Linked DNA regions of Homo sapiens: all the other regions are reported to be linked to region 5. Evidence: microRNA targets listed by miRTarBase, many of them from high-throughput screens and not tested one by one. Region 5 holds a microRNA gene; each other region holds the end of a gene's coding sequence.

Region 1 (4,072 bases), not on the chromosome of region 5:
TCAATGGGATGGGGTCCCTGGGGGCACCATGATTGTAGGATGGTGGGTTAGCTCTGCAGTGGGGCAGACATGCTGTGTGCTGGAGTCCCCACGGTCTGTTTTGTGGTGGCTGTGCACCTCACGTACACCCCGTCCCTGGAGCATGCAGTGTGCACCAGACTGTGTAGTCTCCCTCTGGGTTTAGTTACCTAGCAAACCCAAGTCCTCACCAAGGCCCTCTGTGACCTGTCTGGATTTCCTCTCCTATCCCTGCTCCCTCATTGTGCCCAAGCCTCCTTTTTATGTGTTCCATAAATCCCAGCACATTCCTGTCCCAGGTCCCTGGCACTTGCAGTTCCCTCTGTCTGGAGCACTCTTGCCTGGATGTGTGGATGTCCCCAAGCTCATTCCCTCTCCTTCGGGGCTGCTCTAATATCGCCTTCTCAGTGAGGCCTTCCTTGACCTCTGTCAAGGATTAAAACAAAAATTAAAAGGCCCACTGCAGTGGCTCGTGCCTGTGCCTGTAATCCCAGCACTTTGGGAGACCGAGGCGGGCAGATCACTTGAGGTCAGAAGCTCAAGACCAGCCTGGCCAACATGGTGAAACCCCGTCTCTACTAAAAATACAAAAATTAGCCAGGTGTGGTGATGCACGCCTGTAATCCCAGCTAGTTGGGAGGCTGAGGCAGCAGAATCACGTGAACCCAGGAGGCGGAGGTTGCAGTGAGCCGAGATGGCGTCACTGCACTCCAGCCTGGGCGACAGAGTGAGACTGGTCTCAAACATATATAAACAAGAATAAGAAAACCCTTGTCATCTATTTAATAATAAATACATGGAACATATATAAACCATAATGAATGCTCACGAAACCACAATCCAACTTAAGTTCTCAAACTTTTAATGTTTTTCAATAAAGTAACACGATTCTCCATATGCAGATGTTACATTTCATGTGTTAGATTTGCTAAGTATGATTTAATTATACATTTCCATTTTTTGATCTTCAACTTAATTACACTTAAAAAATGAGTATTTTGCTGGTGTAAACACCTCCACTTCTTTTTTTAAAAAAACAGGGTCTCCATGAACCAAGCTGGAGTGCAGTGGTGCGATCACAGCTCACTGCAGCTTCAACCTCTCAAGCTCAAGGCATCCTCCCACCTCTCAGCCTCCGAGTACCTGGGAACCTGGGCACGCACCACCACACCTGGCTAATTTTTGAATTTTTTGCAGATAAGGGCTTTTGCTATGTTGCTCGGACTGGTCTTGAATTCCTGGGCTCAAGCCATCTGCCTGCCTGCACCTCCCAAAGTGATGGGATTACAGGCCTGGGCCACTGTGCCTGGCCCCAACATCTCCACTTCTGATCTCATTTTTCTGTTTTCTCACCATCTGATATATTTTACTTTTGTCACATTTACTGTCTCTCACTAGAACATCAGCTCCACAAATACAGGCCTTGGGCACAAGATACCCAATGTGTTTGCTGAGTGCAACTCAGTGGTGCCCACCTCCGCCCTGTGCCTGATAGATGTGTATCCATCACCCCACCACCCACTGAGTGCCTCTGTGGGCTCCCTGGGTGTGGTTTTAAGCATTGGTAGGCCCTGTATCATGGGTGCTGGGCTATCAGGCCCCCCCACCTGTGTGTGATGTTGTGTTGACACCACCTGGGAGGGCCGACAGTCCCTCAGTCTTGTGTGTGCGCTCATGGACCGACATCTCCACCACTGCTGGTGGGCTCTGTTGGGGAAAGGGTTAGTTGTCTTCAGTTGTATGCAAGATAACTGCATCATGTTGGGTGGGACTATGACTATGTTATCGTACTTATTTGGAGATTAAGTGTGGTTAAGGAGATGTGTGAGGGTGCCCAGATGACAAGGACTAGATGGTCAGTTTTTTATTTTTTTTGAGACAGAGTCTTGCCCTGTCGCCCAGGCTGGAGTGCAATAGTGTGATCTTGGCTCACTGCAACCTCTGCCTCCCAGGTTCAAACGATTCTCCTGCCTCAGCCTCCCGAGTAGCTGGGACTACAGGTGTGTGCCACCACACCCGGCTAATTTTTTGTATTTTTAGTAGAGTCGGGGTTTCACCGTGTTGGCCAGGCTGGTCTCGAACTCCTGACCTTGTGATCCGCCCGCCTCGGGCTCCCAAAGTGTTGGGATTACAGGCGTGAGCCACCGCCCCCGGCCCGATGGTCAGTTTTATGTGTCAACTTGGACGGGCTACAGTCCCAGTTATTCAAACACTCATCTAGCTGTCGCCATGGAAGTGTTTTGTAGATGTGATTAAAGTCCATAATCAGTTGACTTTAGATAAGGGAGATTATCCTACAAAATCGGGGGATTGGGTAAAAAACTGATTCAATTAGATAAATGGGCAAAACTGAGGCTCCCCTGAAGGAGAAATTCCTCCTAGGGACAGCGCTTCAGCCTTCCTTCTTGCCCTACATGCTCGGGCACTTCAAGGAAGAATAAGGGGAGGAATTTCCTGGGACACACAGCTGGCCATTTCCCAGTTTTCCAGTGTGGGGACTTGGGCTCAGCGTGAATCACAGAGGTATCCATGGTCCTAGGGTTTCCTTGCAGACGTGGGGTCCAGGACAGGAGGCCATGGAGTGCGAATGTGGGAACCATGGCACAGAAGATACTGGGTGGGGCAGTTCTCCAACCAGGCTGAGTCACTTGAGGCTTTCACACCCCAACATCTGAGCCTGGGCTGGTAGCTCCGCCCTGCACTTGCTCAGGCCTGAAGGCTGAGGCTGAGCTTCCTGAAGCTTCCAGGGAAGCAGGGAGTCTGAGGGGGCACTCCCTCCTTGAAGCCCCCTCCCCAGTGCCTGCTTCCCGGAGCTGGGGCTCAGGCGCCTGGGTTCTTCCCCAGGACTGATGATTCACCCCGGCTGGGGCCTTTTCACTTCTCCTTTGGGGCTAAAAATACTGGGACCCAGGCATCCAGCTGGGCCAGCCTTGCCACAAATTGCACAACGCCCCTCACTCAAGTTCCGCTGACGCAGGCTTGGGTGGGGGCCTGAGTTGCTCCCTGCTCAGACCTGTGGAGCTCAGAGCCTGGGCCCCTCCACTGCTCCTCTCCTAGGCCAAGGACCCTGGGGTCTGGGCTGACATGCGAGCCGCTGGGGGACTCTGGGCTTGGCTGTGGCCCCTGGAAATGAAGTCCCTTCCCTTAGCCCCAGATAACCCAGGGGTGCTGGCCCCCTGCATAGACACAGAGTCCCAGTTAGGAGCTGGGGATAGAAGACAGCTAAAGGGGACTAAGAGAGAGAGGTCAGAGTGAGAGAAATAGGACCATGGGGAGAAACACATTAACAGGAACAGAGAAACAAGGGAAAAAGAGACAGGATGAGAGAGACACAACTGTAATAGAGACACAGAGGAGTGGCACACAGAGACCACCTCCCAGCTGGAGACAGTCAGGAAGGACTGAGGGAGAGGGGACAGCCAGGGCTCCACACCCAGGCAAGAATGGGGGAGGGCCTGTGGAACAGAGAAGTCATCAACACACACAGTTCAAAGTCTACCCTAGGCTAGGAGGGGGAGCAGGAAGAAGGGGCAGGGACGCAGGGGCCCGGCCTGCGAGCTCCCTGTTGGCCTCTGCTGCCCCCTGCTGGCTCCCGCTGCGGTGCTCAGGCAGGAAGAGAGGAGGCTGCTGTGTTTAGGCCCAGGACGCTCTTCATTCCCTTTGCACACCACCCACCAACCACTGCCTGCCCCACTCCCTGTCCCCCACTTCACAGAGTGCCCCCAGGGCCAGCAGGTGGTGCGGGTGTCTTGCCCGTGACCTTGTTGGCACAGTCCAGCAGGGCGGTGTGAATGTCCTTGGCACAGGAAATCTGGGCTTTGATGACCGCCAGGTACTGTGGGTAGGGGAGGCTGTCAGGCTGCACTGCGTCGGGCTTGGTGGCTGTGGGCACCAACGTTGGAGAGTGCTTGGCACTGTCACAACTCTGTGACAGGCACTCATGCGCCAGGCGCTGTGGACAGGCAGGCAAGGGGACAGCATCAGCTCCACCCGAGGTCATTCTACCCCACCCCAAGGGCCAGCTGGGGGTTGTCGGCTTGGCCTCTGGATTTCC
Region 2 (4,089 bases), not on the chromosome of region 5:
TGTTCATTTTCTACCTTTCTGTCCTGTTCAAATCGTTTTTAGCCATGCTCACATATCACATTTTTAACATTTCACGTCTCCTCTCGGCTACACCACCACAGAGCATATCACATAATTAAATGTAAGGCCATTAACATCTACACACACACACACACACACACACACACGCACACATGGATCCAGCTGCAACTCTAAGAATGCAAATTATAAAAGATTCAATTACATAGGAATCAATTCAAGAGTATATATTTGCCTTCCCATTTGTTTTCTTTGCTAAAACACAAAGCAGTCTCATACGCATCATAAGGTAAATTGTGTACAGAAAAAGAAGGAAATCAAATCCCAAAAGGTGATGTGGAAAATGCAATAATTTTTCCTGCTTTATTGAGGAATGATTGACAAAAATGGTATATATCTACAGTATGCAACATGATGTTTTGACATATGTATACACTGTGAAATGAGTACCACAATCAAGTTAATATATCCACCACCTCACAATTATCTTTGTTGTTGTTGTTAGTGAAAACATTTAACATCTACTCTCTTCACAAATTTCAAGTATATAATACGGTTCTATTAACTATAGTCACTATGCTGTACATTAGCTCTCCAGAGCTTATTCATTCTTCCTAACAGACACCAAACATCTCCCTATTTCCCCCACGTCCCAGGCCCTGGCAACCACCATCCTACTCTGCTTCTGTGAGTTTGGCTTTTTGAAATTCCACACATCTGTGAGATCTTACAGTATTTGTCTTTCTGTATGTGGCTTATTTCAGTTAGCATAATGGTCCTCCTGGTTCATCCACATTTTTTCAAATGACAAGATTTCCTTCTTTTTTAAAGCTGAATAATATTCCATTGTGTGTGTGTATACATATATACACATACATATGTATACTACATTTTTTTATCTGTTCAAATGTTCAAATGTGATATTTGAGCATGGCTAAAAACAATTTGAACAGTACAGAAAAGTAGAAAATGAAACAGATACACATACATGCATACACTACATTTTCCTTATCTGTTCATGTGTTGATGGACACTTAGGTTGATTCCATACCTTGTCACTAAGAAAAGCAGATCATAAACTTTGATCTGTTGTGATTTTGGATCTTAGCACCCAGGCATCCCATCAATACCAAATTTGAAAGATTAGTTGCTTATTGCATGTGTGTAAAAATACTCATAAACTTGAGGGAAGTTCCACAGGCTAATCCTAGTTTGAAGTCTTACAAGTATGAACAATGAGATACTTAGGATTTACTGGAAAGAGCACAAGACTCGGAGTCAAAAAATTTGGGTCTGCTCCATCTGCATTATTTACAAGTTCATGATCCTGGGCAAACCATCACTCCAGCCTGAGTTTTGTCACCTGTGAATTGGGGATAAAATTGGTTACTGCATAGAGTTGCTATTAAAATCAAATGAGATAATGGACTATATATGAGATTGTCTGGTAAAATGTAAAGCCCAATACAAATGTTAAATACTATTGTCACTATTACAACAATTGGTCACAAAGGACATCTGTAAAAAAAATAGAAATGGTATAATGAAAATTCATCCTACTAACAAAAATATAACCAAGCAGAAGCACCTTTCTATTTAAAAAGAATGAATATGATCCTTCCCAGGACATAAAATATGGTACTTGACCTCACACAACTCACAGTGACAGTGGAACCAATCTCCCCCTGTGTGATGACTAATATCCACATGTGCCTAGCATGTACCTCAATTCTCAGATTCAGGTAAGAAAAAGATATGTTTGAGAGAATAGATTAATGAAAGTAGATTAGTGTGATCCATAGGAAGTGAAAAAAAAATATTTAAGAATGCCAAGTGTTGTCCTTTGGATTTCAGATCCCCCTGGAACTGAAACAAAGAAGGCTAGAAAGAAGGAAGAGAATAAGTTGTGTAGAAGGGTCTGTAGAAAGAGGCATGGGGTTCCAAGGAGGGAAGGACATTAGGAAAGTAGCATGTTGTAAAGGAAAGAGCCCTGCACCAGGAGTCAAGAAACAGCTCTAGTCCCAGCACTGCCACAGGCTCTCTATGAAACCCAGGGCAGGCCACTGCCCCTCTCTGGGCATCAGTTTCTCTACCTACAATACAAAGGAGGCATTGTAAAACCAGTTAGCACAGCTATTCAGTCATTTACAAAATATTTATTAAGCGTTTATTATGCAATAGGCAGTGTTCTAGTCACAGAGACGTGGGAGAAAATAAAAACAGACACAGTTCCTACTGCCATGGATCTGGCATTCTAAATGATCTCCCTCCAACTCAAAGACCTGGCACACTAGAACTCTGACTGTAGGCTGTGGTGAGGCCACAGTAGACAGGCAAAATGGCTAAATGACTGAAGAGCAGACAGCGTGACCTCTTCAAAGGCAGTCTATTTTTTTTAAGCAGAATCAAGTGCCCCTCATTCTCATATTGCCCCACTTCAGTTCCTGGGCCTTGGAGCTTAATACAGATCATGGCATCCAACTGACTTTTATTCTGCTTTTTTTTTTTTTTTTGAGACGGCATCTCGCTCTGTTGCCCAGGCTGGAGTGCAGTGGCATGGTCTCGGCTCACTGCCATCTCCACCTCCTGGGTTCATGCCATTCTCCCGCCTCAGCCTCCCGAGTAGCTGGGACTACAGGTGCCCGCCAACACACCAGGCTAATTTTTTGTATTTTTAGTAGAGATGGGGTTTAATCATGTTAGCCAGGATGGTCTTGATCTCTTTTTTTTTTTTTTTTTGAGACGGAGTCCCGCTCTGTCGCCCAGGCCGGACTGCGGACTGCAGTGGCGCAATCTCGGCTCACTGCAAGCTCCGCTTCCCGGGTTCACGCCATTCTCCTGCCTCAGCCTCCCGAGTAGCTGGGACTACAGGCGCCCGCCACCGCGCCCGGCTAATTTGGTCTTGATCTCTTGACCTCGTGATCCGCCCGCCTCAGCCTCCCAAAGCGCTGGGATTACAGGCGTGAGCCTGATTTTTATTCTGAAAGCCAAGGCTAGGGCTCAAAGAAACTTCCAGAAATATAAAGATGTTTTGTTTTGTTTTTCAGTTAGATAATTAGATACATTACAGCAGAGAAATGGGGAAATTATTTGATACTTTTTAAAAAGCATATCTAAAATGACTAACATTAATGTATAGGTAAAATTTCATAAAAATTAATGATCACTATAATTGTTCCTAATCTCTGTTTTCTATACTAGGAAAAACACAATTTATATATGAATTTTTGCTATATGTAGACAGAATTGTTCCTAATCTCTGCTTTTTATAATAGGAAAAACACGATTTATATATGAATTATTTGCTATATGTAGAGAGAATATAATACCTCTTTTACCAAACATGAAGCCCTAGCCTTGATTTCTGTGGTACATTAAAAAAATATACTTTGCATTGCCAAAAGAGACATAGTATTGGGTTTTGATCCGTATTTTCTGTTGCTCATTCATTACATTGGTGTAAAAGAAGGAAAATCTTAAAAGACATGGAAAGCAGCTCCCTTATAGAGAGCTATCAAAAGAGCGTCCCAAGAGTGTCCTGACCACACTTTTCTTCCCAGATCATGGGCCCCAGCATCTCCGAGCACACACTGTCTTCCACAGGATCTTCTGACAAGTCTGCTTCACCCTAGGAATCCCCATGATCAATATGAGAGAATGAAGAGAAGGATAGGCTGCCATGAGTGTCTCCCAGATGAAGACACTGGTGAGATCAGGAGGATAAGTCTTGGAGGTGATGGAGAAGGGGCTGGCCATGATATAAACCAGGTGAAGTAAGAGGAAGCAGCCCAAGGACTTCAGCGCAGTGATGTGAGCCTTGGCCCGGACATCCCTCCTACCAGCTGAATGGACCTTCATCTTCTTGTGGTGTGTATACAAAGAGACAATCAGCATCCCAGAGGAAACAAGAAACACCACTAAAGGCAAATAACTTCCTGAATTGAGCTGAAATGCATACAGGTACTGCCAGCTTTCAAAGGGATACCGAATGCTGCTGTTTCCTTGGGGAGGATGATAGAATGTTAAGCCAATTTGGACTGTAAGTAACAAATTGATTATAAAGTAGCCCAG
Region 3 (4,089 bases), not on the chromosome of region 5:
TTGTTCATGTCTCCCAGCAGAGCTGAACACGGCAGCAGTCCTCCCACCAGGCCAGGAGGGGGTCTCTTCCTACGTACGTAGTGTCAGAAGAGCCTGTGCATGGCCTGTCACACACAAGCTAGGATGTTCCCTCCGCCACTGTTGCAGAGTCCCATGAGCAATGTGAAAATGTGGCAGGCCCAAGGTTTTCTTCTCTGGTCCAGAGAGGGCGAGGCAAGAGCAGGAAGCAGGTTCTACAGCTCTGAGAATGCTGAGCTAGAGCAGCAGCCTCCAGGCAAATGGGTTACCAAAGCAATTGCCTTCTGCCAGACTGGGTGCTGGGGCCTCAGAGAGACTCCAGTATTCTTGCCTTCCTGAAACCAGGGTCTAGCAGGACAAAACATATTCCAACTAGAGGTTGTCAATCTGGTGAAGGGTTGAGTAAACAGTAGAGGATGCAAGGCAGCCTGAGGTAAGTGCCAGACAGTCTCCGAAGATTCAGGCTGGCTCAGGCTTGCCTTGCCCCGTCAGTCATTGCTGGCTCTATGGCTATTACAGCCTGGGGTTGAAGGCTGGTTCTAGGGGTTCCTCCCACCAGCCCATAAATCTTAGTTACCAAGGGGCAGTCAGAGGCAGTCCCAGGGAGCCCAGCAATCCGTCTACACAGCATTACAGCAAGCTGCAGTGTGAGCCAGAACTAACAGGAGACAACCCAAGCCTCCCTCCAGCTCTGGGAACCAGGCAAACCATGCTACAGAAACTCAAATCGAAGAGGCTGCAGCCATAAAATTCTGTTTAAGACTGTAACATGGAAAAAATGTTTATACGTTAAGTACAAAAGGGACATAAAATTGTATATACAGAATAACGACTATGTAAACACACCAAAAATCTATGCACAGAAATGTCTAGGGGGAACATTTAACACCAAAAGATTAACAGTGGTAGCATTTGGGTGGCAAACTTGATTCTTTCTAAAATTCCCATATTTTCCTTAATAAGCAGTAATTATAATTACAACGGGAAATAATTTCTTTAAGTACCCAGTGCAGTGTCACTGTCAAATAAACATCAGTGGCTTTGGCCCCAATTCTTAAGGTGGCAAACGCCGCTGCCCCACTCCCCACCCATCCCCAATAGGGCTTGAGCACCTGTAGCCCTGCTGAGCACGTCTGTGCAGCCCCAGCCCTCAGCATCTCTTCCACTCGCTTCCAGCTATATCTTTTCCCTTTCCTTCTTAATTCAGGAGGCAGCTTTGCAACCACAGGGCCCAACGATAGAGACTGTGAGGTGGCATTTTTTTTTTTTTTTTTTTGAGACGGAGTTTTGCTGTTGTTGCCCAGGCCGGAGTGCAATGGCACGATCTCAACTCACCGCAACCTCCGCCTCCTGGGTTCAAGCAATTCTCCTGCCTCAGCCTCCCAAGTAGCTGAGATTATAGGCGCATGCCACCACGCCCGGCTAATTTTGTATTTTTAGTAGAGATGGGGTTTCTCCATGTTGGTCAGGCTGGTCTCAAACTCCCGACCTCCGGTGATCCGCCCGCCTCGGCCTCCCAAAGTGCTGGGATTACAGGTGTGAGCCACCGCGCCCAGCCTTGAGGTGGCATGTTTTCAAAGAACATGGTGCTCAGTTTTGGACACACAGGAACTCAAATACAATCATTTTCCTGCTGCTAAGTAATGCTTGGTGGCTGCTCTGGTTGCAGATATGTGAAGTTAGGTAGCCTTTCCTGTTAACCCATGGTTCCAAGCACTCTCTCTTAACAATCATTCCTACTGTGAATTTTCTACCCGGAAAAGCCAGGGGTGGGCAATAACAATTAAGATCATTTGGTTTCTAAAAGTTCTTCCTCTCTGGGAAAGCAGAACTATACAGTGGGTGGCATCCTGCAGATTCTAGTCTACATTTGGGAAAGGTGTACGCCTCTTGCACTTTCAGAGGAACAAGTCAAAAAGTAATTGCTTAAAAAAAAAAAGTGCTAGCAATTCACAGCCTATTCCTGCCCGCTGAACAGAAATTGTGATGCCTTGATTTACCCCCTAGCAGCTACATATTCTTGAGCAAGTCATAACCCTATTGTGCCTCAGTTTCTGGATCTGCAAGGAGTGTTGCCTGCATAAATGTTTGTTTAGGAACTTAGTAAAATGACATACTCCTCTCTCTGCTCTAAGAAGGCCATGAGCCAGCTGCAGCTCATCTCACTCAGCCTGGGCCTGACCAGAGTCCTTTCCTCTTCCAAGAGAAAGCAAGGAAAAGCAGCAAGCAAGCAGACATACCAGGTCAACAGGAGTGATCTATCATTGGCAACGAGGCCTCAAACAAACTGCAAATGCTCTGGCTTCAGCACCTTATCCCCAAATGCCACAAACCAGACATGGAAGCCATGCAAGAGTGACTATCACACACACACACAGGCACAGACAGAGTACCACCAAGCAAAAAGGGGGCTAATACTGCAGAGATGGCCCCAAAGTGCAGCTTGAGGAACACAGCAAGTCATCCCAAGACCCTCACTTAGCTGCCAAAGAAACAGCAAACACTATCAGCTTTGCTTCAGTCTTCTGAAATGAAAATATTAATAAGGAAGACTCACTAATACTTGTGGCAAACACTATTAGCAGGGATGCAGGGTGTCTCCTGGGCTGCAGGACTCCATCTGCTTCAGCTGAACTCTTGGAAACTACAGATGAGAGATATATGCATACGCACACACATATATGCGTATCTGTATGCACACAGATGTATTTAAATGAAGGTGCATACACTGTGCTAAAATACAAACAACAGAAATCAAAGGTCATATATAAAAACGCTAAATATGACATATAACACAGGCCTAGAACCAGCTCTTGGTTGGGAGCTGGGGAAAGGGGTGGTATCATCTGAAGACTATGTACACAATTTGTGGTGGGCAGGGAAGGCATCAGTGTAAACAACTCAGACTCACTTCACAATACTGGCCCACAGGTAAGTGTGATGTATCTCATGTACAAAAATAGACTCCCACCTTGCTTTTGTACAAACCAAGCTTGGTAGGCACCCAGGAGGACCGTGGGTTTGTCTTGATGACAGGGCACTGCACCAGGCTGCTGCTAAACCTTCCAGCCCTAGGAACTCACCTGCTACCCTCCCGCTACCCTCCCCTTTCCCTCCCTTTCAGGCCCTTGGGTCTTTTTCCCACCCAACACCTACAGCCCGAGGCCTGCCCAACCACCTAGCCTCACACGACTAACTGCAGAAACTAACTGCATGGCTTCCTGCAAGCAAGGTCCTTCTGTATCTGTCCCTTTCTCTGACCCCAAGATATATGAAAATGTTTCTGTAAATGTTTGGCACCTAAGAAACATGATGGTTGTGGATAATGCCACAAGTACACAGGGAGACCCAGTAACAAGACATGCAGGGTGAGGGCAAGCGGCTGAGCTGCCCAAGCATTTCAAAACCAGGACTTTGGCTTCCCATGCAGTTGGAGGGTAGAAGGGATGTGCGGAACTGATGACTTCACCGGCTCCTCAGCAGCATGTACATTCAAATTGAAGATGCTTGAGAGCCCCACTATACCAAATCGTGAGTCTGGTCACTCCTCCAGCAGAGCTTGGTGCAGTGACAGTTAGAAAAGCTGAGTTCCAATTGAGTCTGTTGCACCAAGAGTCCTTTTGAAGACGCTCATCAAAGTAATTATTTTCTTTTGAGCAGATGTACAGCACATCCATGGGAAGGCCATGTAAAAGGATGTTCTCCAGCCCAGTCAAATGATCCAATCCCACTATTATCTCAGTTCCCTCTGAGTTTCTTCCTGCTGGCCGCCCTCACTATACAGAAATAGCCAAGCAGCAACAGGGTCAGTCATCAATGGTGGGCAACCAAAAGGCCTAGAAGGAGAACATAAATCAACTTTAAAAAGCCAAGCATCTCCTCACTGCCAACGGTTCTTCACATCCCACCCCACAGCAAAAATGTGCCCAACCCCAGTGGCTCTGGTAGCCCTCTCTCCTAACCAACCAACCCCGATGCTCTAAGGAGACAGAAACACTCTTTCCTCTATGTGAAAGTAAAATGGTTCTGTTTTTCTCCAATAATCACTGTCCACCTTCCACCAAAGCAGAC
Region 4 (4,089 bases), not on the chromosome of region 5:
CTAGCTAACAGTATTGTAACAATGCTGGTTTCCTGGTTTGGGTCTTGTCCTACAGTTATATAATACATCACCATTGAAAGACACTAGATGAAGGATTCACAGGACTCTATGTTATATTTGCAATGTTAAGCCTATAATCATTTCAAAATAAAAGTTTCAAAAATTAAAACCTCCAGGGGCTCCCTATGGCCTCCAGAACACAATTCAAACTTCTTGGTCTGCCATGAAGCCCTTTCAGACTGAGGCTCCAGCCCCATATCTCACTCCTCCCTCACATGCACTCTGCACACATGGTAATGGTAACGTAGCTCCTGAAGGTCCTGGTATCCACCATGCTCTATGACTCTTCCCTACCATTGTCTGGGACAATCATCCCCCAGTCTTCTGCCCTATTTTTATAACTCAAGCCCTCAATTTTCCTTCTCCGCTTGGCCCTCATGGGAGTGCCTCCCTTCTGTGCCCCCACAGAGCACTGTGCAGAACCCTGACACAAATTCTAACACACCGCATCGCTATTGTTAGTCTACATCTTAGACTTCCCTTCTAAAGGAGTAGGGACTCTGCATAGTTTAAGTCCTTATCTGTAATGCCCAGAACAATGCACCATAGACACACAATAAAAGTTTATTGAATGAATGAGTAAATAAAGGGAAAAAAGAAAGGAAGAATAGGGGAAAAAAAGGGAGTAAGGGAGAAGGGAAAATTCAAAGCATGGAGAAGCCACTGTTTGTTTCTCCTGCACCTGCTGTCTGCCATCTGTCTACTCTTTCTTAACTCTTCTCTTCTGGCTTCTGCTGTCATTGCTCTGTTGATCTGCTCTTCTGAACTTCATTAGTGACCTTGTGAATGATAAGTTCAATAGCCTCCTCTCAATCCCGGTCCTCCTCCACCTCTCTAGCTCTGCTCTCCTCCTTGAAACATTCATGGCTCTTGACTTCTCATCTTCCACCTGTTTGATTCTGCTCCAGCACCTTGATCAATGTCTTCCTCCTACCCTTTGTCTTTAAATGCAGGTGCCCCGAGGGCTCTGTCCTTGGTTCTGAACTCTTCCCTCCATGTTTTCACTTCTTGCTGGGTTCCAGTTAATCTCTCTACACACATTCCTCTCCAGCCCTCAACACTCTGCTAACCCACATCTCTAGCTATCTGCTAGACCTCTCTGCCTGATGATTCCAAACACACAGAAAACTAAGCTCTGCATCATCCAAGCCTGCTCTTGACTTTCCTACTTCTGTCAATGATGCCCGATTCCTCTGGTTTTCCAGGCTTAAGACTCCGGACTCCCAGATTCTTCCTTTCAGACTTTGCTACATCTGCTAGGCAAGTCCTCCTAAAGCACATCTGCAATCCCATCTTGTTCTGCTCAAATCCATCCCACCATAGCTAATCAAAGTTTAAGTAAGAGTTGAGTCCTAAGCCTCCTGAACCTGCCACCACCTGAGTTCTTCTAGATTAGTTCCATCTGGCCTGCCACAGGAAAATTTCACTCCATTGGAATCTTAGACACATCCTACCATGAGCATCTGTATGTGAACAGTACAGTCCATTTGCTGATAGGTCTTCTATAAGTGACTATTGTTATGAAGATTATTTCCCGCCTCTCTGCTTTCACTTATGCTGTTTCTCTGTCCTCTCTCTCTCCCTGTTGCTCCATCCCTGCTCCGCTGAAATCCTATACCTCCTTCAACATCAACATGAATGTCACCTTCTTTCCCTGACCTGGCCAGCTTGGCATGATATTCTCCTCACCAACCCCCTGACATCAGGAAGCATCTCTTGTGGCTCTAGAGTTCTTCCTATGCTGTAATGACTTGGGAGCTTATCCTTCTCATAAAATGAATCATAAGCTCCTTTCTTGCTCATCATCATATTTCCCGGGTTAATATAATTAATATGGGCCTTGTTAGATTGAATTTCTCTTTCAGCATGAGTCCTGGGCCAGCCCCATCTTTCCCCTAGTCACCATGCATGATGGAGCTGGGAGCCCCACCAGAGCTCAAGTTCAGAGCACGGCAGCTCTGCCTAAGCACTCGGCACTCAGAGGGTCACTCCATGTGCTCTGGACACTGGCATCACTAGCTCAGGATGAGCTCAGGCCTGGGGGCAGAGGGGGAGCACTGGTCCAGATGTAGGTAGCAAGTGGAGATGGTGATGCTTGCTTGTGGCAGACTGTGGGAGTCCTCCCCACAAACTTTAGGGAAACAGAGTAATTGACAAACATTCAGAAAACCAACTGAGCTCATTCCCGAGCCAGGGGTCACCAGTAGTGGTGATAGCACTGTGCACTTCAAGTGTGGACAAGTATCCTTCACCTCTGTGCCCTCCATCCTGTCTTTGAAAAACGATATCTGCTCTGCCTGTGGAAAAGGTTAATTGCTAACAGGTGGTCTCAGCCAGACTTCTAAAGTGGACAGAACTGACTCTGTTGACCTTGTGCATTGGACACCTCCAGGTGGGGGAATTCCAGGAGTGATATCAGGGGCACCCACCAGCTCCTTCTCCCTTTACTGTTTCAACTCGCCCCAGAACTTTAACCTGGAGCAGCTCATCCACGGCCCACCCAGGCAGAGATGTTCTGAGCCCAGCCACACACTGCCTGGTTACAGGGAGAGAAGGGGCCTTAAAGCCAGGGAGACCCAAGGGGCGTCAGAAGACGAGAGGAGCCCTGAGCATGTGGGACACTGGGCAACTGCATGAGCAAGCTCTGCCGGGACCAAGCTCCCTTGGGGTTGTCCCAGAGAAGAGATGGAGCTCTGTGAGCCTAAAGGCTGGGGCTGTGAGGGGTGTGTCCTCAGGGAGACTCCTGTCTGCAGGAAGGAGGTAGTTATTGCCCTGGGGGAAACTGGCCTGAGAAGCATTTGTGCCAAGAAGAATGAAGGGCCAGGCTCCTCCAGAAAATTTTTTCCCTCCCTTCCTCCGTCCTTTTCTCTCTCTCTCTCTCTCTCTCGCTCTCTCTCTCTCTCTCTCTCTGTCTCTCTCTCTCTCTCTCTCTCTCTCTCTCTGAGACAGGGCTCTCTATGTTGCCCAGGCTGGCCTGGAACTCTTACGTTCAGCCGATCCTCCTGCCTCAGCCTCCTGAGCTGGGATTATAGGCACTCGCTATGGTGCCCGGCCAACTTCCAGGGAATTCTTGCCCTTGGGAAGTGGGCATGAGGGCAGGGAGGCAGGGGACTGGGGAGGAGAAAGGAGGACCCCCAAGCTGCACATTGAGGACTCCAGAGGAGTGTCCTCTAAGAGCCAGGACCCTCCTTTGAGGCACAGGAACAATAAATCCCTCCAGAGTCCACAGGTCTCTCGCATCCAGTCTGAAAGGTTGACTCCCTGCACGGGGCACTCCTGGGGATGGGGCTCTGCAGGGCTTCGGGTCAGCCTGGCTCTATCTTCCAGGAGGAGCCCACTGAGGCCTGTTCACCCAGAAGACAGCACCCAGCATGCTCAGGAGCAGGGGCAGCTTCAGAAGGACCACGAGCAGGAAGTGAGGGCTGCTGAGCCGGAACCTGTGGTGGACACGGTGAAAATGAGTCACTTCCCCGGGAGAACCCCCAGGACCCTTCTCTCCCCACCTCTCCCCATGCTCTGACTCTGGAGCCCAAATAACCCAGGAGCAGCCAGGGAAAGGACCTATGCCAGGGCAGCCCCTTCTGTGGCCCCCATCCCTCCTTCTCCCTCCATCAAGGACTGCCCGGGGGGTCTCATCAAGGAGAGGTGATGGAGTGAAGACAGAAGAGGGACCCACTTCCAGGAGTGCGCTCCACAGCACCCTCTCTGTCCCTGTCCCACTCACAGCCTCCACTTTATCAACTGACTTCTTAAAACCAGTCCCCACTCTCGCTTTTTTTATTTTCTGAGACAGAGTCTCACTCTGTCACCCAGGCTGGAGTGCAGTGGTGCAATCATGGCTCACTGCAGCCTTGACTTCCTGGGCTCAAGTGATTCTCCCACCTCAGCCTCCTGAGTAGCTGGGACTACAGGCGCACCACCACACCTGGCTAATTTTGTATTTCGTAGTAGAGACAGGGTTTCACCATGTTGCCCAGGCTGGTCTCAATCTCCTGGACTCAAGTGATCCACCGCCTCGGCCTCCCAAAC
Region 5 (4,078 bases):
CCTTCAGTCTCAAAAGCATTAGCATGTGGCACTGGGCGCCGTGGCTCACACCTGTAATCCCAGCACTTTGAGAGGCTGAGGCAGGCAGATCACGAGGTCAGGAGTTCGAGACCAGCTTGACCCACATGGAGAAACCCTGTCTCTACTAAAAATACAAAATAAGCCGGGCATGGTGGCACATACCTGTAATCCCAGCTACTCGGGAGGCTGAGGCAGGAGAATCACTTGAACCTGGGAGGCGGAGGTTATGGTGAGCCGAGATTGTGCCATTGCACTCCATCCTGGGCAACAAGAGCGAAACTCCATCTCAAAAAAAAAAAAAAAAAAATAAAGCATTAGCATGTGGAAATATTGTAATGTGCTGCATTAGCAAATAAATTAACATTATCACTCATTGATAAATACTAATTAGTGCAATAAAAGCAGAGGATCTCATTTCAAAACATGTTTGGTGACAAAGTGTAAAAGAATGCCAATTAATTAAACTTTCATTGCATTCCACTGCTACAAACAAATTGATCTTAGTTTTGTTCTTTTGCACTTAACAAATGTTGATTTGTTGAGATTCTATTGTGGGAGAGAATCTGCCACCCTTCCCCTTCCCCAGCAATTATCCACGATTATTATGAGTGTTTAAATACCATAGCAACAGCTCCTAATTATCTACATCAGTGGGAGCGAGTAGAATTGTGGATAATCCAAAAATAATTTGCATGTGAAATACTTTTTAAACACCTGAATATTATAATAATAATATCTTAAATTGTATTATACTTTTCAATTTCCAAAACGTTCCCAACTTCTTGTAACTTTATTTCCATTTGATATGGTGCCCTCTTTTAAGTAAAGCCACCACTTCTCAAATTTTCTCTGCAACTATGAATAGATTGTGGGTATGTGAATGAATTTGAAAGGGTTCCTCTGTTACATTGAGAACATAAAAAAAGTCACTAAGGAAAAACAACTAATGTTAGTCAGAAATGTCTCCTTCTAAGCAACGGCTGATAAAGGGGGAAATGGCAACAGTAACAACCTCAGAAGATTGCAATGGAGCTTAAATGAGTTAAAATATTTACAGCACTTAGCCAATAACTGGCACATAGAAAGTGTTCACATGTTCGTCCAGCAAGGCTGGCCTGTGTGAGTGCTCACCAGGTGCCAGGTTGAGGCTGTACAGTTCAACACAGATTTCAGGAAAATCATGCACCTGTCTCTTTGCAAACATAAAATCTGGAAACAGCTCACTCCTCAATGGACAATAATAATCACTGCTCTAGTTGCATATGAAATGGGAATTTTCCTAACCAGAATTTCAGCTGGAGACTCAGCCTGGGACAGTAGTCATTGCCGTGTGATCCACAAGCTATGCCATCCATATGGACTCAGAAGAGGGGGATTTCAAAAGAATTCTGCAACCTCTAGGCTATTAGTCACCCTCCAGTCTACATAAGGGAAACAAGAGTTATAGGGAAGAAGGCCGGAAAAAGGGACTTTTTTTTGAGAGACAGTGGTTGGGGACCATGTTTCCCCCCACTCCCTCCTTTCCCAGCACATCTGACTGCCTCCTGCCCACCTGCCCTCCTGCCTTCCTGCCCTCCATCCAGCCCTTTCCAGAAAACAGCAGCCAGGTCAACTATTCACAAACAGCCCCTTCTCATCCTTTGGTATTTTTAGATATCAGTGTTTTATAGGGATGTCTTGTTTTTCTTCCCCCCCCAGAAAACATATCAGAAGTCAAAAGAACAAATGCAGGCTGAATTAAAAATGGACTATGAGAGTTATCTGGAACTGGAAAAGACTGTTCTTATCAACCTTGGCCTAATCAAAGTCACAGAGAAGGGGTCATACATGGAGGTGATGTAAAAAAGCTTCCTGAAGGGGTGTTTTGGGGACTTCTTCCCTCTATTTATTTTTATGTCAGGTGAACTGGCATGCTGAACATATATATATATAGGCTCATTTATAGACTTTTATTTCCCTGCTATTAAAACTTTTGAATTTTAGCAATGAGATCTATTTCAGTTTTTGTACCATGTATGTACCAAATTTTGTACTGAATATGAAAGTGTTCTTTTTTAATGAATGTTTTCAATAACAAAATTTGTATTTTCCTATAATAATAGAGAACTTTGGATGTCCCTTCCATCCCAATCCTTGCTGTCCACACAGAGGCCCTCATTCCAGGCAGAAGGGGAAATCAAACTGCTCCTACTTATCAGCTTGCTTTTGGCCACCTTTCCAAAAAAAGTGCTTCCCCTTGGCCACTGTACAAACTGTAGGGCCATGTGCTAAACAAAATATTAGCAAATCAAATCCAGAAATATATATATATATATATTTTAAAGAGGTTAACACATGAAGACAAAGTTGGGTTTATCCAAGGAAGATAAGGTTAATTTAAGAGTAGAAAATAAATCAGTGATTAATCAAAAGAGAGAAATTATGATGCCAAGTCGATGCAGAAAAACATTTCATAAAAGTTGACATCAATTCATGATAATAATGATACATTCTTGGCATCTACAGAAAGAATTCCTGTAATGTGATGAAGGGCGTGTAAAACAATACTACACCAAACATGGTACTTCATGGTGACAAGCAGAAAGCTTTCCCCTGAGATGTGGAACAAGACACAGCTCACACCATCAGGTGCCTGACATCATGTACTGCAGTTGCCTTTTTGTTCCCATGCTGTTTAAGCCTAGCATAGGCACCAAAAAGCAACAACAGTATGTGAAACTGAGACACAAAAGAGCTTGGAGCCAGATTGTGAAGGCTCCTGTTTACCAAGCTAAGGAGCTGGATTAGAATTTATGGGGAATGAATGGAAGGTCTAAACAGGAAGTTGACCCAATCAGCTTTATTTTTAGGAAACAAGGAATGAACTAGAGCAGGGGAGAGTCTCATGGCAAGAAATCCTATTAGGAGGCAGGAGGAATTGTTCAGGGCAAAGGATTAGGATGCCCTGTACTAAAGCTTAATGTGAAGATAGAAATCAAAGGCTGGTTGGATGGGGAAGGGAAGACAAAGGATAATACCAAGGTTTATAAGTTAGATTGCTAGAGGAAAGAAAACTTTGTCGGATAGATTTTAGCTCTTAACCACCTGTGTGCCCTTGAACAGATGACCCAGCTCTGTGAAACAGATTCCCCTTCCATCAAGTCAGGTTGAGAGAACTTAACTTGCAGCATTTATGTAAGGGGCAAATGAGCCCCTGCAGATAAGGGGCCTGTGCCTGGCACATATTATTGTCATCATGATTGAAATATCCCAGGGCTCATCCTTACACTTGAACTTCTTTTATTCTTTCTTTTTTCTGCACTCACTTTCTAGGTGCATGCATCCACTCTCAAGGCTTTAGATACTACCTCTGTCCCTGACCTGGCCTTCTCTCTAAAATCAAGAGATGTGTATCTATTTGACCTTTTGTATCTCCACTTGGATGTTTAATAGGCATCTCAAACTTAAACATGTCCAAAATTGAGTGCTTGATGTTTCCCTTCAAAAACCATTCCTCCAGCAGTCCTCCCAGCCATGATGCTGCTTGGGGCAAAAGCCTTAAGGTCATCCTTCATCTCCTTTCTTTCACAATCCACATCCAATCTGTCAGCAAGTCCTGTTGACTACACGTTCAGTATGCATGTGAAACCTGATCGCTTCTCTTCTCCCTCACTGCTACCACCATGGTCCAAGCTGCATCATCATCAGCTTGGATTTTGCAGCAGCCTCCTGTTCTCCCTGTTTCTATGTTGTCATTTTCAGTCACTTTCAGCCACAGCCAGATGGTAGTTTTAAATGGATGCTGTCAGATGCTGTCATCCTTCTGCCCAGAATCCTTCCTCAACCTCATAGTATGATCACTCAGAGTATGTTCCCAATGCCTGTCTGTGCCCTGCAAGCCCTTGTACAGGCAGGCCTTCCACTGTCACCTGGTCCCATCCCTCCTTCCTCTCCCCTCCATCACACCCATCCCAGTCATGCTGGCCTCCTGTTCACCAAACATGCCAGGCATCTTCCTCTCCCTGGGCATCTGTGCTTGCTGTTCAGTACTTTCTCCAGAGATTTTTCTAATTTTATT
Region 6 (4,089 bases), not on the chromosome of region 5:
CATATGGAGAAGGCAATTGTTTTCCCACCCCTTCAAAAGAATGTACATGGGTGTGTTTCCATCTGTGATATGCTAAAATTTAATCTACTCTAGATAGATTTTTATATTAAGGAAGAGTAAGCACATTCCTTTATAAACAGAAACTTGTAGAATTTTATGCTGCTTCTTCATAGCCCAGAAGTCAAGCTTGTTTTTGAATGGTCATTTCATGACTTTCTTTTTAAAGGAACCAAAGGTAAATGAAAATACTAGTATAAAAGTACCACTTTTATACTATAAATATATTTATACTGTATATATTTATATATATTTATACTATATATTTTTTTACTATATATATTTATACTATATATATTTATAAGTATGTGTTCAGCACTGTGACAATTATTGTTACAAGGCATGCTTCTTTTAGATCATAATTGGGATACAACTAGAGCCTTGATTTTTTTTTTTATTTTCCTTTCGTTTTTCATGCCTGTTGACTGAGTGTATCTTATTTCCATAGATTGAGTGGGGAGCTTGTGCACTTGTTCTCACAGGAAACACAGTCATCTTTGCAACTATACTAGGCTTTTTCTTGGTCTTTGGAAGCAATGACGACTTCAGCTGGCAGCAGTGGTGAAAAGAAATTACTGAACTATTGTCAAATGGACTTCCTGTCATTTGTTGGCCATTCACGCACACAGGAGATGGGGCAGTTAATGCTGAATGGTATAGCAAGCCTCTTGGGGGTATTTTAGGTGCTCCCTTCTCACTTTTATTGTAAGCATACTATTTTCACAGAGACTTGCTGAAGGATTAAAAGGATTTTCTCTTTTGGAAAAGCTTGACTGATTTCACACTTATCTATAGTATGCTTTTTGTGGTGTCCTGCTGAATTTAAATATTTATGTGTTTTTCCTGTTAGGTTGATTTTTTTTGGAATCAATATGCAATGTTAAACACTTTTTTAATGTAATCATTTGCATTGGTTAGGAATTCAGAATTCCGCCGGCTCTATTACTGGTCAAGTACATCTTTTCTCTTAAAATTATTTAGCCTCCATTATTACAAAAAATTATAAAAATAAGTTTTCAGTCAGTCAGGATGACATCACTCCCAATGTTATGCAGACATACAGACGGTTGGCATACGTTATAGACTGTATACTCAGTGCAAATATAGCTGCATTTATACCTCAGAGGGGCCAAGTGTTAATGCCCATGCCCTCCGTTAAGGGTTGTTGGTTTTACTGGTAGACAGATGTTTTGTGGATTGAAAATTATTTTATGGAATTGCTACAGAGGAGTGCTTTTCTTCTCAATTGTTAGAAGAATTTATGTTAAACTTTAAGGTAAGGGTGTAAAAACATTTTTGAGATAAGGTTTTTATTTATGTTTATTATTGTTAGAGTGAGTTGCAATGTGGGAAGAAATGACATTGAAATTCCAGTTTTTGAATCCTGTTTCTATTTATAAGTGAAATTTGTGATCTCCTATCAACCTTTCATGTTTTACCCTGTTAAAATGGACATACATGGAACCACTACTGATGAGGGACAGTTGTATGTTTGCATCATATATGCCAGAAAACCTTCCTCTGCTTCCTCCTTTTGACTTATTTGGTATGTTGTATATATTACATAAAATAACTTTTCAAATATAGTTTAATAACACTTAGAAGTGTTTACTTACCTGGAAAATAATTGCTATGCCGTACATTCAGAGTGCCCCCTCCCCTGCAAGGCCTTGCCATGATTAACAAGTAACTTGTTAGTCTTACAGATAATTCATGCATTAACAGTTTAAGATTTAGACCATGGTAATAGTAGTTCTTATTCTCTAAGGTTATATCATATGTAATTTAAAAGTATTTTTAAGACAAGTTTCCTGTATACCTCTGAACTGTTTTGATTTTGAGTTCATCATGATAGATCTGCTGTTTCCTTATAAAAGGCATTTGTTGTGTGAGTTAATGCAAAGTAGCCAAGTCCAGCTATATAGCAGCTTCAGAAACATACCTGACCAAAAAATTCCCAGTAACCAGGCATGATCAATTTATAGTGGTCGTTTACATCTAATAATTATCAGGACTTTTTTCAGGAGTGGGTTATAAAAACATTCAAGTTGGTCTGACAGTATTTTGTTAAGGATATTTGTTTGTATGTTTATTCAGTATACTTACATAAAAATTATTTCGCCATCAGCCAAAACTCAGTAATCATGACAGCTGTCTGTTGTTTTATGAAGTTTATTTCTCAAGAAAATGGGAATAAATTTGGGATTTGTTCAGCTTTTTTACTAAAGATGCCTAAAGCCACAGGTTTTATTGCCTAACTTAAGCCATGACTTTTAGATATGAGATGACGGGAAGCAGGACGAAATATCGGCGTGTGGCTGGAGCCTTCCCACTGGAGGCTGAAAGTGGCTTGTGGTATTATAATGTTCAGATTTCAAGAGGAAGGTGCAGGTACACATGAGTTAGAGAGCTGGTGAGACAGTTGGGAACTCTTTGTGCTTGTGATCTACTGGACTTTTTTTTGCAGGAAGTGCATTCTCTGGTCCTTCCCTATTTTCTGTTCTGGATGTCAGTGCAGTGCACTGCTACTGTTTTATCCACTTGGCCACAGACTTTTTCTAACAGCTGCGTATTATTTCTATATACTAACTGCATTGGCAGCATTGTGTCTTTGACCTTGTATACTAGCTTGACATAGTGCTGTCTCTGATTTCTAGGCTAGTTACTTGAGATATGAATTTTCCATAGAATATGCACTGATACAATATTACCATTCTTCTATGGAAAGAAAACTTTTGATGATGAAACAATAAAGATTTTAAATATCTATTTTAGTTTGTGGGTGTTTTTGAAATGAAAATATATGGCACACTTTCATTCTGAAGTGCATTAACATTCTAATAAGGTGATGTAAAGCAAGATGACATTGGTGTAATGTTAGAGTTGCAGAAGTTTCCATTCCAAAATAAAATGGAAACCATAGTTACAGATATTACAATGCAGCCCTGTAATTTTGAGCTGTAGTAAAAGGATTGGTAATCTGGGAAGTAGAATTTTTACAAAATCTTTTACAAAAATAGTCATAAAAGGTTTTGTTGACATTTAAGACTACTACTGATCTAAAGGCAAGGTCCTACTTCTTAAATTTTCAGAACATTTTTATGACTTCTTATTATGTATTTATTACCACTCATTATTATAGCATGTTACTTTTTGCAAACATTTTAAACAAAAAATATTTCTGTTTGGTACACTGTGAAGAGAGAAAAGTACTGTTCTGTATTTTCAAATATTAGTCGTGTCCCAAATTGTCCTAATTATAATCTTATCATATACTTTAAAAAGTTTAGGCTGTGGACACTAAATGTCTGCTCTAATATGATTTTGGGGACATTGTCAATACAGATTTTTTTTTTTTTTTTGAGACTTGCTTTGTGCCCAGGCTGGAGTGCAGTGGTACGATCTTGGCTCACTGCAACTGCTAGGTTCAAGCGATTCTCATACCTCAGCCTCCTACGTAGCTGGGATTACAGGCATAGGTCACCACACCTGGCTAATTTTTGTATTTCTTGTAGAAACATGGTTTTGCCATGCTGGCCACACTGGTCTCAAACTCCTGGCCTCAAGTTATCGCCCTGCCGCTCAGCCTTCTGAGTAGCTGGGATTATAGGCCTGCACCACCACGCCTGGCTAATTTTCGTATTTTTTGTAGAGATGGGGTTTTGCCATGTTGGCCACGCTGGTCTCAAACTCCTGGCCTCAAGCCATCACCACCACAACCCCCCTCAAACCACCCCCCCGCCCCGAAAAAAAGTGCTGGGATTACAGGCGTGAGCCACCACACTTTGGCCAAAATAATCCAGATTTCTAAAGTCTAGGATATTTATATTGAATGTGACTAGATTTTTAAGTTTCAGATAACTTTTAATCAATGCACCAAAGTTAACAAGCAACACAACGTTATTGTTAAGTGGTATGTGTGTTTTAGATCCCAGGATGCTTTATGATGTATACGATTGGTGGGAAATTGAAATTCGTATTTCTTCTCTATAAGCTTGTATTGCCCTTTCTTTCAGTGAAGATTAGGAGCTC

Evidence for each region. Region 5 holds the annotated microRNA hsa-miR-4423-5p (AGUUGCCUUUUUGUUCCCAUGC, at 2,671-2,692, shown strand). A microRNA usually pairs through its seed, bases 2 to 8, with sites in the 3' UTR of a target mRNA and lowers its output. Matches are read on the target gene's strand: a 7mer-m8 pairs with bases 2 to 8, a 7mer-A1 pairs with bases 2 to 7 and ends in A, and an 8mer does both.
Region 1: the mRNA of MED29 is a reported target of hsa-miR-4423-5p. The part of its 3' UTR that is shown has no 7-base or 8-base seed match.
Region 2: miRTarBase lists TAS2R5 as a target of hsa-miR-4423-5p. The part of its 3' UTR that is shown has no 7-base or 8-base seed match.
Region 3: the mRNA of WDR82 is a reported target of hsa-miR-4423-5p. Seed matches in the 3' UTR shown: 8mer at 2,089-2,096 and 7mer-A1 at 1,313-1,319.
Region 4: miRTarBase lists CD300E as a target of hsa-miR-4423-5p. Seed matches in the 3' UTR shown: 7mer-A1 at 3,019-3,025.
Region 6: miRTarBase lists LEPROTL1 as a target of hsa-miR-4423-5p. The part of its 3' UTR that is shown has no 7-base or 8-base seed match.

The regions. Positions count from the first base shown.
Region 1 is chr19:39,397,355-39,401,426 of GRCh38, reverse strand. MED29 (mediator complex subunit 29) reads right to left here. Exons shown (of 4, transcript NM_017592.4): 4 at 786-3,970. The coding sequence ends at 3,728. Among named protein-coding and RNA genes, the nearest start is that of ZFP36, 7.5 kb to the left of the region's middle. RefSeq lists an enhancer at 3,057-3,106.
Region 2 is chr7:141,790,752-141,794,840 of GRCh38, reverse strand. TAS2R5 (taste 2 receptor member 5) reads right to left here. Exons shown (of 1, transcript NM_018980.3): 1 at 3,474-4,089. The coding sequence ends at 3,580. Among named protein-coding and RNA genes, the nearest start is that of TAS2R5, 2.6 kb to the right of the region's middle.
Region 3 is chr3:52,253,666-52,257,754 of GRCh38, forward strand. WDR82 (WD repeat domain 82) reads right to left here. Exons shown (of 9, transcript NM_025222.4): 9 at 769-3,854. The coding sequence ends at 3,825. Among named protein-coding and RNA genes, the nearest start is that of PPM1M, 10 kb to the left of the region's middle. RefSeq lists an enhancer at 1-85.
Region 4 is chr17:74,609,277-74,613,365 of GRCh38, forward strand. CD300E (CD300e molecule) reads right to left here. Exons shown (of 4, transcript NM_181449.3): 4 at 609-3,497. The coding sequence ends at 3,377. The region is part of intron 3 of LOC101928343 (a long non-coding RNA gene); the gene reads left to right. Among named protein-coding and RNA genes, the nearest start is that of CD300E, 12 kb to the right of the region's middle.
Region 5 is chr1:85,131,136-85,135,213 of GRCh38, forward strand. It overlaps MIR4423 (microRNA 4423), which reads left to right and starts at 2,659; the gene lies at 2,659-2,738. DNAI3 (dynein axonemal intermediate chain 3) reads left to right here. Exons shown (of 23, transcript NM_145172.5): 23 at 1,720-2,003. The coding sequence ends at 1,863.
Region 6 is chr8:30,105,241-30,109,329 of GRCh38, forward strand. LEPROTL1 (leptin receptor overlapping transcript like 1) reads left to right here. Exons shown (of 4, transcript NM_015344.3): 4 at 506-3,284. The coding sequence ends at 622. Among named protein-coding and RNA genes, the nearest start is that of LEPROTL1, 12 kb to the left of the region's middle.